3 linked regions of the Homo sapiens genome follow. The protein of the gene in region 1 interacts with the protein of each later gene in a biochemical or structural test. Each region holds a gene or a part of one and is shown on either strand. Other genes may lie near its edges. The genes, in order: MYO6, TOM1L2 and SEPTIN9.

Evidence for each region.
Region 2: the proteins of MYO6 (region 1) and TOM1L2 form a complex in vitro, tested with the Homo sapiens proteins (one study listed by BioGRID).
Region 3: the proteins of MYO6 (region 1) and SEPTIN9 form a complex in vitro, tested with the Homo sapiens proteins (one study listed by BioGRID).

What each region holds. Positions count from the first base shown.
Region 1 is NC_000006.12:75,752,239-75,755,838, reverse strand, and holds part of MYO6 (unconventional myosin-VI), read right to left. Parts: intron 1-3,600. UniProt on the Homo sapiens protein: Myosins are actin-based motor molecules with ATPase activity. Unconventional myosins serve in intracellular movements. Myosin 6 is a reverse-direction motor protein that moves towards the minus-end of actin filaments.
Region 2 is NC_000017.11:17,846,714-17,850,536, forward strand, and holds part of TOM1L2 (TOM1-like protein 2), read right to left. Parts: intron 2,147-3,823; coding exon 2,110-2,146; intron 1,071-2,109; coding exon 922-1,070; 3' UTR 1-921. UniProt on the Homo sapiens protein: Acts as a MYO6/Myosin VI adapter protein that targets myosin VI to endocytic structures. May also play a role in recruiting clathrin to endosomes. May regulate growth factor-induced mitogenic signaling.
Region 3 is NC_000017.11:77,396,378-77,400,200, reverse strand, and holds part of SEPTIN9 (septin-9), read right to left. Parts: intron 3,218-3,823; exon of another isoform or gene 3,147-3,217; intron 1-3,146.

The sequences.
Region 1 (3,600 bases):
CAATAAAATGTCAGTACAGGGGCTTGGTCTTAATTTAATCACTGTATCCCTAGAACTTAGAATAGTGCCTGGTCCGTGGTAGACACTACAGTACGTTTTAAATAAATGAAGACATAAAGGAACCAACACAGACGCACACACAGTTCTTTAGTGAGTCTTTACAAAGACAGTTGTAACTATCGGATCACTACCAATGCACAAAGTAATAAAAGTTATTTTCAAAATTCCCCCAGAACATTTTTCTCCTTCCTTTTTTTAACTAATTGTTCTTTAAAAATTCTCCAACTAGAAAAGCTAATTACCAATTTCAGTCTAGCAATCTATTTAAAATGTTAAAGTAGTTCCATAATGATGCATCATGCTCATCTTCTATCTTCCATTAAAAAATAACCTGTAACAATTTAATAATCACCATTTTAGTGACCCTAATTTTTCAGAACTTCCTGAACCACCTGACTTGAAGCCATAATGTGAGGTTAAATACATAAGCAATAGGGGGAAAGTGGAGGACTTACTACTTTGGGACTACACAGAGATGATGCTTCTAAGTAGCCACATTGACCTTGAACAAGTTACTTAATTTTAAGTAATGTATTTATTTATTTAGAGACGGGATCTTGCTCTGTCACCCAGACTGGAGTGCAGTGGTGCAATCACAGCTCACTGCAGCCTTGACCTCTTGGGCTCAGGAGATCCTCCAACCTCAGCCTCCTACACAGCTAGCACTATAGGCGTGCACCACCACACCCAGCTAATTTTTGTATAATATTTTTTGTGAAAGGGTTTCACCATGTTGCCCAGGCTGTTCTCAAACTCCTGGGCTAAAGTGATCCTCCCAACCTCAGCCTCCCAAAGTGCTGGGATTACCGGCATGAGCCACCACATGCAGCCAGTATTTTTAATTTTTTGAGTCTCCATTTCCTTACCTGTAGAAAAGGAATAAATTTACTAAATCTACTTCATCAAGTTGTTTTAAGGACCAAATGCATACAAAAATATTTTAAAGCAATAAAATGCCATCCAAATATAAGTTATTAGCTTTTGACGTATATGTCTTTGGATTTCAAATGGATGGTTTCTATTTATTTTTTCATATCTCTGCAACTCTTCCTATTTCCTGGATCCAAAGATATGCCAGCACAGGGAGGAATCAGTTCACACTTGTCATATCTAAAACACAGTGGGCCCTCAGTAAATATCTGTTGAAAAAGATGTTCATCCACATAGATCAGAAATCAAAAAATTCTGCCACAGAAAATATATTACCTTGTAAAGGTTAGTCAGCGGCTTACTTTTTTTTTTTTTTTTTTTTTTTTTTTGAGACGGAGTCTCACTCAATCGTCCAGGCTGGACTGCAGTGGCCCAATCTCAGTGCACTGCAACTTCCACCTGCCAGGTTCAAGTGATTCTCATGCCTTGGCCTCCCAAGTAGCTGGGATTACAGGCACCCACCACCACACCCAGCTAATTTTTGTATTTTTAGTAGAGATGGGGTTTCACCACATTGCCCAGGCTGGTCTGAACTCCTGACCTCAGGTGATCCACCCACCTTGGCCTCCCAAAATGCTGTGATTACAGGTGTGAGCCACCACGCCCCAGCCAGGTTATTTTCAAATGAAATAACAAATGACCTAACATACTCAAAAGATGACTGTGTTTTTGTCAAGAGTTTCCTTTGTGCACATTACTCAGCATCATATTTACCCCATGTGAATATACACTGAAGGAATGTGCTTTGGTGTTTTGGTTTCACTTGAGACATGCCTTCTGTATAAAAAATTATTTCCTCTCTCTTTAGCACCAGCAAGATTTCTAAAGATGCCAGATTTCTTCTTTAGGTTTTACTTTTTATGCTTCAGTACTCACAGGGAAAACTTTTGGTGGACTTATGGTCATTTCTCAAACCATTATGTCATTCTTACACTAATCAATAAGAAAAATAAGCTAATTTTTGAAAACAGTAACTAGAAAGACGTTGCAAAATATTTAAAGATTCTAGTCCACTCAAATTTGTCAAATAAAATCAGAACCATTTTAAATGAAAAGATCCTGGTTCCTCTGAACATTATATAATGCCGGCAAGGCACGGTAGCTCATGCCTGTAATCCCAGTACTTTGGGAGCCCGAGGCAGCACACTATCTGAGCTCAGGAGTTCAAGACCAGCCTGGGCAACATGGCAAAACCCCTCTCCACCAGAAACACAAAAAAGTTAGCCAGGCATGGTGACATACACCTGTGGTCCCAGCTACTCCGGAGACTGAGGTGGGAGTGTCACTTGAGCCTGGGAGATGGAGGTTGCAGTAAGCCGAGATCATGCCACTGCATGTGGCATGAATGAGACTCTGTCTCCAAAAAACATATATATATATATATATATATATACACACACACACACATATATAGATCATAGATACATGCATATAGATATAATGCCTCCAAAAGAGAACTTAAGCTTATTTAACTCTACTTCTTGATGTGTGTGTCACAGATCTATTACCAATTTATATTAGTAATATTACTAATTTATATTAGGTGGTGGTTTTGTATTTACAGTTGAATATGAATATCCTTGAGATGCACAATTCCTAATAGTTCAAAGCAAATAATGAAAAAAATCCGTAATGGTAGCCACCCAACTCAGCCTTCCTACCTTGCTTCTGCTCATTTACCCAACTACATCCTACTGCTGAAATGCATGATTCCTAGTTTGTTACCAGAAAAAATGGGCTTATTTGCTCACTGTTGTCATTTATGTCTATTGCGGCTCAAGGGATATTCCACAGACCATAGAAAAGATTTGTACTAATAGTTTCTAAGTGACAATTTAATCATAATCTAAAAACGAGTCCCCCCTCTCAAGATTAGAGAATTAATTATGTAATATTTAAAGGATAGCTACTGCATAAATAATTATCTTTTTCATTAGAGGAAAATTTTAAAGTTCTATCCCAACCAGGAACATTACAATCTAATTCTAGTTCTCACAAACCTATCAAAGTTAAACACATACATATGTTTAACAGCATACATACATGCACAATACATATAATGTCCTAGAACTATACGAGAAATGAGAAAGCAGCAGCATCAGTGTTCAAGGCTGTCAACTTGAGAATGAAGACACAAACACAGGATTCTAAATTTGTTCCAGAACTACATTCACGGCCTATCATATCTACTCCTGGATGCTTTTGTCAAACCTTGAATTACATTCTTTGACATAATACCAGTTTTGCCGGTTTAAACAGTCCACCAAGTGAACTGAAACCAAGGCAAACTGTTCTGGTGGAAAAAACAGGGGCTTCGTGGTCAAATGACTCAGGTGTGAATCCAGACTTTGCCCTTCTGGAGCAAGCATTTAATTCTTTGAGACTAGACTCCCTCATCTGTAAAAGGACAAGACCATTAGCCTAGAAAATTATTTTGTAGATCAAGCCCCTCAATCTGTGATCTGTCCAATTATGGAAGATGCCTAATAAATGTGCAACAATCTTATACTAGTAAAGGGCCAGTTCACAAATTATTATGAAATATCTCATTATGGGTATCATAATTAAACTCTATGAAACTGCAATCCCAGCACTTTGGGAGGCCAAGGC
Region 2 (3,823 bases), on another chromosome or scaffold:
CAGGCCAGGCCACAGCACTGAGTGTGGCCCATGTGCACATCTGTGACACTTCCCCAGGCAAGCCAGAGCAATACCTCCAGTGCAAGTCCCTCCACAAGCCAGGACCAGGTGTGCGGGTGTGAGCCTGCAGTGTGTGCGTGGCAGTTTGGTTTATTGGTAGTGTCGTCTCAGCAGCGTGCCACATGGCCACCATCTGCGGGCTGCCTGCTGCCCTCCCAATTGTCCTTGGCCCTCTCCCTGCCCAGGGAGCCTGCAGGGACCCTCGGTGCCAGGCTCGGCTGCTGAGCCAGCTTGGGTGTGAAGCCTGGGCTGGCAGCTGAATGATGGAGAGAGGGTCAAGAAGGTGAGAGACCCCCACCATGGAGACCCAGCAGAGCCTTCTCAAATGCTGATAAGCCAAATGTCACAAGGTGACAAGTCCAAGGAGTGAGACCAGGCCCATGAGTGCAGCACACCCTGCTCTTCCAGAGATGCCACAAAGCCCCTTCAGGGAGAGAGGGGCCCAGGAGGGCAGAATGCCTGAGAAGGTCGCTGAGCCAGGCAGAGGTGAGCACAGGGCGGGGCCGGGCGTGCTCTTTCTCCATGGGCGGGTGGAGGAAAGACAGTCCGGGTGGTCTGCTCAGGAAGCACTGCCTGGGGCTGGGCCACTCTGCCCGCTCTTCCTGGGAGGAAACATGGGCAGAGGGGCCCATGGTGGGAGGGGAGAGAGTCTCTGGCTGCAGTTGTCCCACCACTCAGAGAAAAGAAGTGGCTGAAGCTGGTCCTGACTAGTGGGAGGCCTGGGAGCAGACACGGTGGCATTTCCATGGAAACACAGGTGTGCAGGCCGTGTGGAGCTGGGGATGTAGGAGTGGCCAGTGCCCGGTGTCCACGGGGTGCGAGCGGGGACCCGCCATCTGGGGAGGCAAACCACAGAGCTGCTCACAGGGCGAAGAGGGCATCCTCTGACCGCTCTGGCTTCTTCCGGCCAGAAGGGTTTGAGGCTGGGGCAGGAGCCTCCATGGGGGGCGAGGGGAGGTCGGGAACCATTTCAGCAGCTTTGGCTCTTTCTTCAAGGAATTTATCAAACTCTGCAATACAAACCAAGGCAAGGGTCAGGGTTGGTGAGGGCAGGCCACCAGAGGAAGCGCACCCTTCCACTCCCCAGCCCGTTTCCTCCTCTAGGGCAGGCATGAAGCCCACCTAGGAGCAGGTGGGTAGGGAGGGGTTCGTGAGCTGCAGTGTGGGGGGAGGCTCCTGGCTGTGCCCAGTCCTCCTGCCCTGGAGGGAAAGGCTCTGGAAAACACAGCCCAGAGTGCTCACCCTACCGCTGACCATTTTCCAGATCAGCACTGGGTTTTGTCCATTTTCCAGATCAGCACTGGGGGTGGGGCAGGGTAAGCTGGAGGGGCCAGCTTCTGATTAAACAGGCAGGAACCATCCCACCTACCCCACCCTTGCCCACCAATGGAGGACTGAGGAGATGCTGAGGAATGCAGTGGGGAGGGGGGAGTGCCCCATTTCTATGGGCACTGAGAGCTAGGGAGCAGGGTCCTCTGAAGTTTCCCTCCCTGCGGAGCGGTCTGGCCACAGGGTCTGGCAGACCTGGGGAGAGGAGGACAGGAGCACGGAGAGGCAGATGGAGTGGGGCAAGATGAGCTTGGGGAGGCAGGATGTGAAGGGCAGGGGATGTGGGGGTGGCCATGTGGGAGAACTAAGACCCCGCTGCTCCCATCCAGCCCATCAGCTGAGGCCCAGGAGAGGCTCCTCCCTTCTGGCTCAGTGGCCCAAGGGTGCTGCTGCGCACCTCCACAAACTGCGTGTCTGAGCTGGGCTGAGCACCTGTGGGTCAGGACCAGGTGGCAATCTGCACCCGCTATTCACCAGCTCTGCAACTTTGTGGAATTGACATGTTCTTTCTGACCTGTTTCCCAATAAGCGAGATAAATCACACTTCCCAAATCAGCGTAAGACCTGGGTGGGACAAAGCCACCCGTGAAGCCCATGGCTCAGGGCCTGGCACCAGTAGGTGCTCTGGCAGCGGGGGCTCCAAGATGATGGGGGCTGGCTCCTGTGCAGCCTGCACAGAGGCAACAAAAGGGGGCTGTAAGGCCACTGGCCAGGCCATACCTTCACTTGTGACACCCTCCTCCAGATCATCACCCTTCTGTGGGAGGAGCAGAGAAAATGAAATTAGGGCACTGGTCCAAGCACTGCCCGCCCAGCCACCTCTGTCTGCCCATGGCCACCCTAGGACAGCACTGCCCAGGGTAGCCTGAACAAAACTTCCTAATTTTCCCTGTTTCCAGATTTCTGTAATAGTAAAATACTGCTCTTCTTATTGGAGAAACAGAAGCTTTGTTTTTAAAAAACAAAAGCAAAAAATTCAAACATGTTTTAGGTTTTGATCCTCCAGAAAGGCTGGAAAGAAAACTCCAAAAACGGTGCAGGCTGGTTCTCCAGCCTGGGCTGCAGAGGGCGGGACCCCACCTTTGGCACTCTTGAGGCTCTAGGGAGAGGCACAGAGCAGTAGCCACAGGGGGCTGAGCCTGAGCACACACAGGGTCACGTGTGCCCAACACAACACCCACTCACTGCCAGCCACAGGGTTTCTGGGAAGACGCTGTTGACACCAATAGCTGGAAACCGCATGAGGCCTTGATGGCTCAGGGCCACAAAGCCCACAGCACAGGGCCTGTCACTCAGTAGGTACTTTGGGAGTGGAGGCTGTGCCTCCAGAAGCCATGTCCTGCAGCCTCCTGGGAGCTGCACCAGCCTCCTCCCGTGGCCCAGATTATATTATCTGCTGCTGGCTCCTCAAGGAGCCATGGAGGCTCTGTGCACTCAAAAATTAAAGTGCATCAGACTTGATTTTGTTTGGAGAACATGGTAGTGTCTTGAGCTCATGGGGTTCCCTGGGGACTGGGGAAGAGCAGCATGTGCAGGGCCTCATTGGGAAGGGGCAGGATGGGGAAGTGACAAAGCCCTGGGCTGGGCTAGGAGACCTGGGTTCCTTCCTGACTCTACCACTGACCTGCTATGTAGCCTTACTGGACACATCCCCTCCCTGTCTGGACCCTGGGGTCCCCCTTAGAAGTTAAGGACCTTGGTCCTTCCTGCCTTGCTTCTGTGAGAGAAGCAATTTCTTTTCGAGACAGCCCCTTGGGAAAGATGTCCCGGGGTGTGTTCTTCCTCCCTGACACCCAGGCAGCTGCCTTCTTTGGCAAGGCATGTGTTTGGAAAGCTGACCTTCTGGGGAGGAGGCCCAGAGCAGCCAGAGGCCCCAACCTGAGGCCTGCTGTCCTGGTGTGGGAGGTAGCCAGGTCACCAGCCCACAGACAGCCAGGCTGACCCTGTGGTTAAAGAACTCAACAGGCTCTTCTGCCTGGGGACAAGGCCCCCTACAGAGGAGGCACCTAGGAGGGAGATGAGGTGTCTCCAGCTCTGGGGGAGAATCCAACTACCCCATGACTCTGGGCAAGCCACTTCCCAGAGTGCACTTCTTCATCCGCCACCCTGGCCCCCTACTGGGCTGCTGAGAGTGAAAGTGCTTTGTAAAGAACAGAGGGAGGGGCCAGCAGTTATCACATGCAGCCACTGCAGCTCTCCTTTCTTGGGACCTGTTGCCATTTTCAGATGCATAGTATCCTCATCTTCTAGCCCTATCTCTGAGGATGGAGACAATGGGTCTTTGGGGCAGGGGTTCTTTTACATCAAAAATCAGGAAGGGAGGAGGGGGATGACAGCCAATTAAAAACAAAAGCACTGTGTGTATACTTCACAATTAAAAAAAAAAGAAATGAAAACAAAACAAAACAAAACAAAAAACATGCTCCCCCAACAC
Region 3 (3,823 bases), on another chromosome or scaffold:
AAACACTGAGCAGCCTGGCTGATGTGGTGAAACCCCATCTTTACTAAAAATAAAAAATTAGCTGGGCATGGTGACACTCGCCTATAGTCCCAGCTACTCAGGAGGCTGAGGCAGGAGAATCGCTTGAACCCGGGAGGCAGAGGTTGCAGAGCTGAGATCGTGTCACTGCACTCAGCCTGACTGACAGAGCGAGACTCTGTCTCCACAAACTAAAACTAAAAATAAAATAAAACACCGCAGGGCCAAACAAAATCAAATCCACAGGCTGTATTCGCCTATGGGTCCAGCCATGACCTCTAGCTGATCACGTGGCCGCAGGGCAGCAGGACACTGAGCCCCAGAGTCAGGGGTGTGCCAGGTGTGGGCTCCCGACATGGTGTCCCTCTGTCCCTCTGCACCCTGCATGCAAACTGCTGGCTGTGTTCTGATTCTGCAGAAGCCCCAGGGCCCCAAGGAAAGGTTGAATGTCCACTTCTACCAGCCAGAAAGTCCAGGGTTCAATGCCCAGAACTGAATGTAATGAGATGGGCTTACCAAGCTCATCACATCTACACCCGCTTAAACCTGGGCTGTAAAGAATATTATTACCGCCCCCGTACAGATGGGGAAAGTGAAGTACGGGGTAGACACAGAGCCAGACTGTACATCGGGCTGATGCCAGAAAGTGCAGAGCTCAATGCCTGGGTCCTCGTGCGGTTCCCAGGGCCTCCCGCGGTCCTCTGATCTGCTCCCTGCCTCCTGAGCACTGTCCAAACTGTCCCCACATGGTGTGCCTCTGTCCTATGGGTGCTGTAGAGCAGGGGCCGGCTTCCAGGTGTCCTCAGCATCCTTCCGTGCGGTCAAGTTGGAGAACAGAAACTAGACAGGAGAAGGCCTTGTCCCAGGTCCAACCCAAGAAAACAAATGACCTTCCCTGGGAGATCCGGTGAACCCCCTCCTTGGGAGTCCCCTTGGAGTCACCCCCACCATGGCCAACTCATGATCGAAGACACTGCACCAAAGCAGAGGCTGCCCTGGTGTGAGCTTACGATTGAGTCTACGGTGCGGATGCAATGATTTATTCCAGCCAGGCCCACGTGCACAAGCGGATCATTCTAGAACCGGAGCTGGCCCCTCCCCTAGGGCACTCCTCCTTCCTCCAGTTGTCTGCGTGGCTGGCGCCTCACCACCTTGGCCATCTGCGCAAAATGCACATGTGTGCCGGTCCCCAACCATCCTCTCCTCTCTTTCAATGCTTGGTGTCTTTTCATGGATGGGTCCCTCCCTCCCCACTAGCTGGCCTCTGTGCTTACTGCCTGGCTCTATGATCCCTCTGGGTGTTTCGGTCCAGCACCACTCCCATGCCCACTAGCTCTCAGTAAGCTCTGAGACAGCAGGGGCTGTTCCACCCGCAGGGGCCACCCCACCATCAGGACGGCGCTGCTCAAAGGCGAGTTTGTTCTAGATAACAGCCAGGAGATCTCACAGCCTCCAGAACTGCAAGAGAATACAACTGTGTGCTAGAAGAACAGTGAGAACAGGAGGCGCCCCATTCCGGAGGTGTCCATCTTCCCCAGGAGATGCCCCACTCTGGGGGTGTCCATCTTCCCCAAGGAAACCATGTCCCGGCTGGAATGTCAAGAAGGTGACACCTAAATGAAGAGGTGCCCACCCTGGCTCACGCCATCCCCCCAAACGAGCATGCCACCGCCTCCTCCTCCTCTTGGGAATCCTCCTCAAAGCCAAGCCCACTCCAGCCCCCTTCCCGGGGAGCTGGCCTCCCACACAGTCCACACCACCCCCTCCCCATGTCATCCTGGCCACGTCATGACTGTTGAGATTGGCTACGAGGGGTGTGTTCCGGCTCCCCGGGAACAGAGTTGAATGTTCTCTACTCCATGACACCATGCCTTCACCAGGCCTCAGGCGCTTCTAGAAAACCTACTAAGCCAGGCGTGGTGGCTCACGCCTGTAACCCCAACACTTTGGGAAGCCAAGGTGGACAGATCGCTTGAGCCCAGGAGTTCAAGACAAACCTGGGCAACATGGCAAAGCCCCGACTCCACTAAACAATACAAAAATTGGCCAGGGGTGGTGGCATATGCCTGTAATCCCAGCTACTCGAGAGGCTGAGGTGAGAGGATCACTTGAGGCCAGGAGATCAAGGCTGCAGTGAGCCATGATCACACCACTACACTCCAGCCTGGATGACAGAGTGAGACTCTGTCTCAAAAAAAAAAAACAACCAAAACCTACTAAATGCCAGGCGTGGTGGCTCATGCCTGTAATCCCAGCACTTTGGGAGGCCAAGGCAGGCCCAAGGCAGGCGGATCACCTGAGGTCAGGAGTTCGAAACCAGCCTGGCCAACATGGTAAAACCCTGTCTCTACTAAAAACACAAAAAATTAGCTAGGCATGGGGGTGGGCGCCTGTAATCCCAGCTACTTGGAAGGCTGAGGCAGAAGAATCACTTAAATTCGGGAGGCAGAGGTTGCAGTGAGCCCAGATCGTGCCACAGTACTCCAGCCTGGGCGACAAAGCAAGACTTCATCTCAAAAAAAAGGCTGGATCACAGGATCACAGGATAGGCACAAGCCCTGAGGGAGCTCCCAAGGAGGAGGGACGCACTAGACCTTCACCCCCATTTCAGCCTGTGAAGATTCACTTTCGTCTGAGGTTCTGTAGAGGGTTGACTAGTGACCCCCAAAAAGACATGTCTAATACCTAACCCCAAGAACCCACGAATGTGACCTTATTTGGAAAAAGGGTCTTTGCAGATGTGATTAGGGATCCCGGGATGAGACTATCCTGGATTTGGGATGGGCTCTAAATCCAGTGCTCGGTGTCCTTATAGGAGAAAGGCAGAAGGGGACTTGGGACACAAAGAGACACGGTGGGGAGGGCTACGTGATGAGAGCAGAGACTGCAGATGCTGCCAGAGCCAAGGAGCGCCTGGGCCAACGCAAGCTGGAGGAGGCAAGGAAGGGTCCTCCCCTCGAGCTGTCGGAGGGAGTGTGGTCCTGCCAATACCTTGATGTCAAACTTGTGGCCTCCAGAACCATGAGCGAATCAATCTTTGTTGGGCCACTTGGTTTCCAGTAATTTGTTCCAGCAGCCCCAGGACACTCACAACGAGACCCCTGGGAAGATGAAACCCCTGGCTGCACAGTGGCCCAGGGTGAGGCTAGCTGGTGTGGTCACCCACTCTCCAGCCCAGCCCCAATCCCACCACAACCACATTCGACAAATGGCCCACTGTGGGCCAACGGACACGTGGCCATTCCAGAGCTGCCACATCAGGAGCCCAGAGGAGCGAGAGCTGCCTCCTTCCCCCTTCTTGGAGTCGCACAAAAACCCCAGATGGTTGGAGAAGTCATCGGAGGAATCACATCACTCTAGATTCTTGTTTCATTGCTGGGATATGTGGCAATGAAACAAGATCATCCCTGCCAGGGATGCCTCATGGGCAATTGCCTCCCCACGGAGGACATTGTGAGTTGTACCCAGCCGGGAAACATTAGGAGATGTCTGTCACCAGGCTGGCAGAACAGGGCTCCCCAGCATCTCCTCCCCCATCAGAGTCCTAAGACTGCGCCCTGGGTCCTGCAGTCACACACGGTCGCCCCTCTCTTCCCAATGTGCAGGCCTCCTGGGAAGCCCCCTGCCACCATCCTCACAGTGGAACCGGCATAACCTGCCCAGGGGTAGCAGGTCCTTGTCACTTTACACGTCTCCATCTTCCCTGTGGAGGGAGACGCAGCCAAGGGGTATCCACATTCACCCACAGAAGCGAGAGTGTTCGTGAGCTTGTCATTTTGCAGATTTTAGAACCCCGTACGTGACT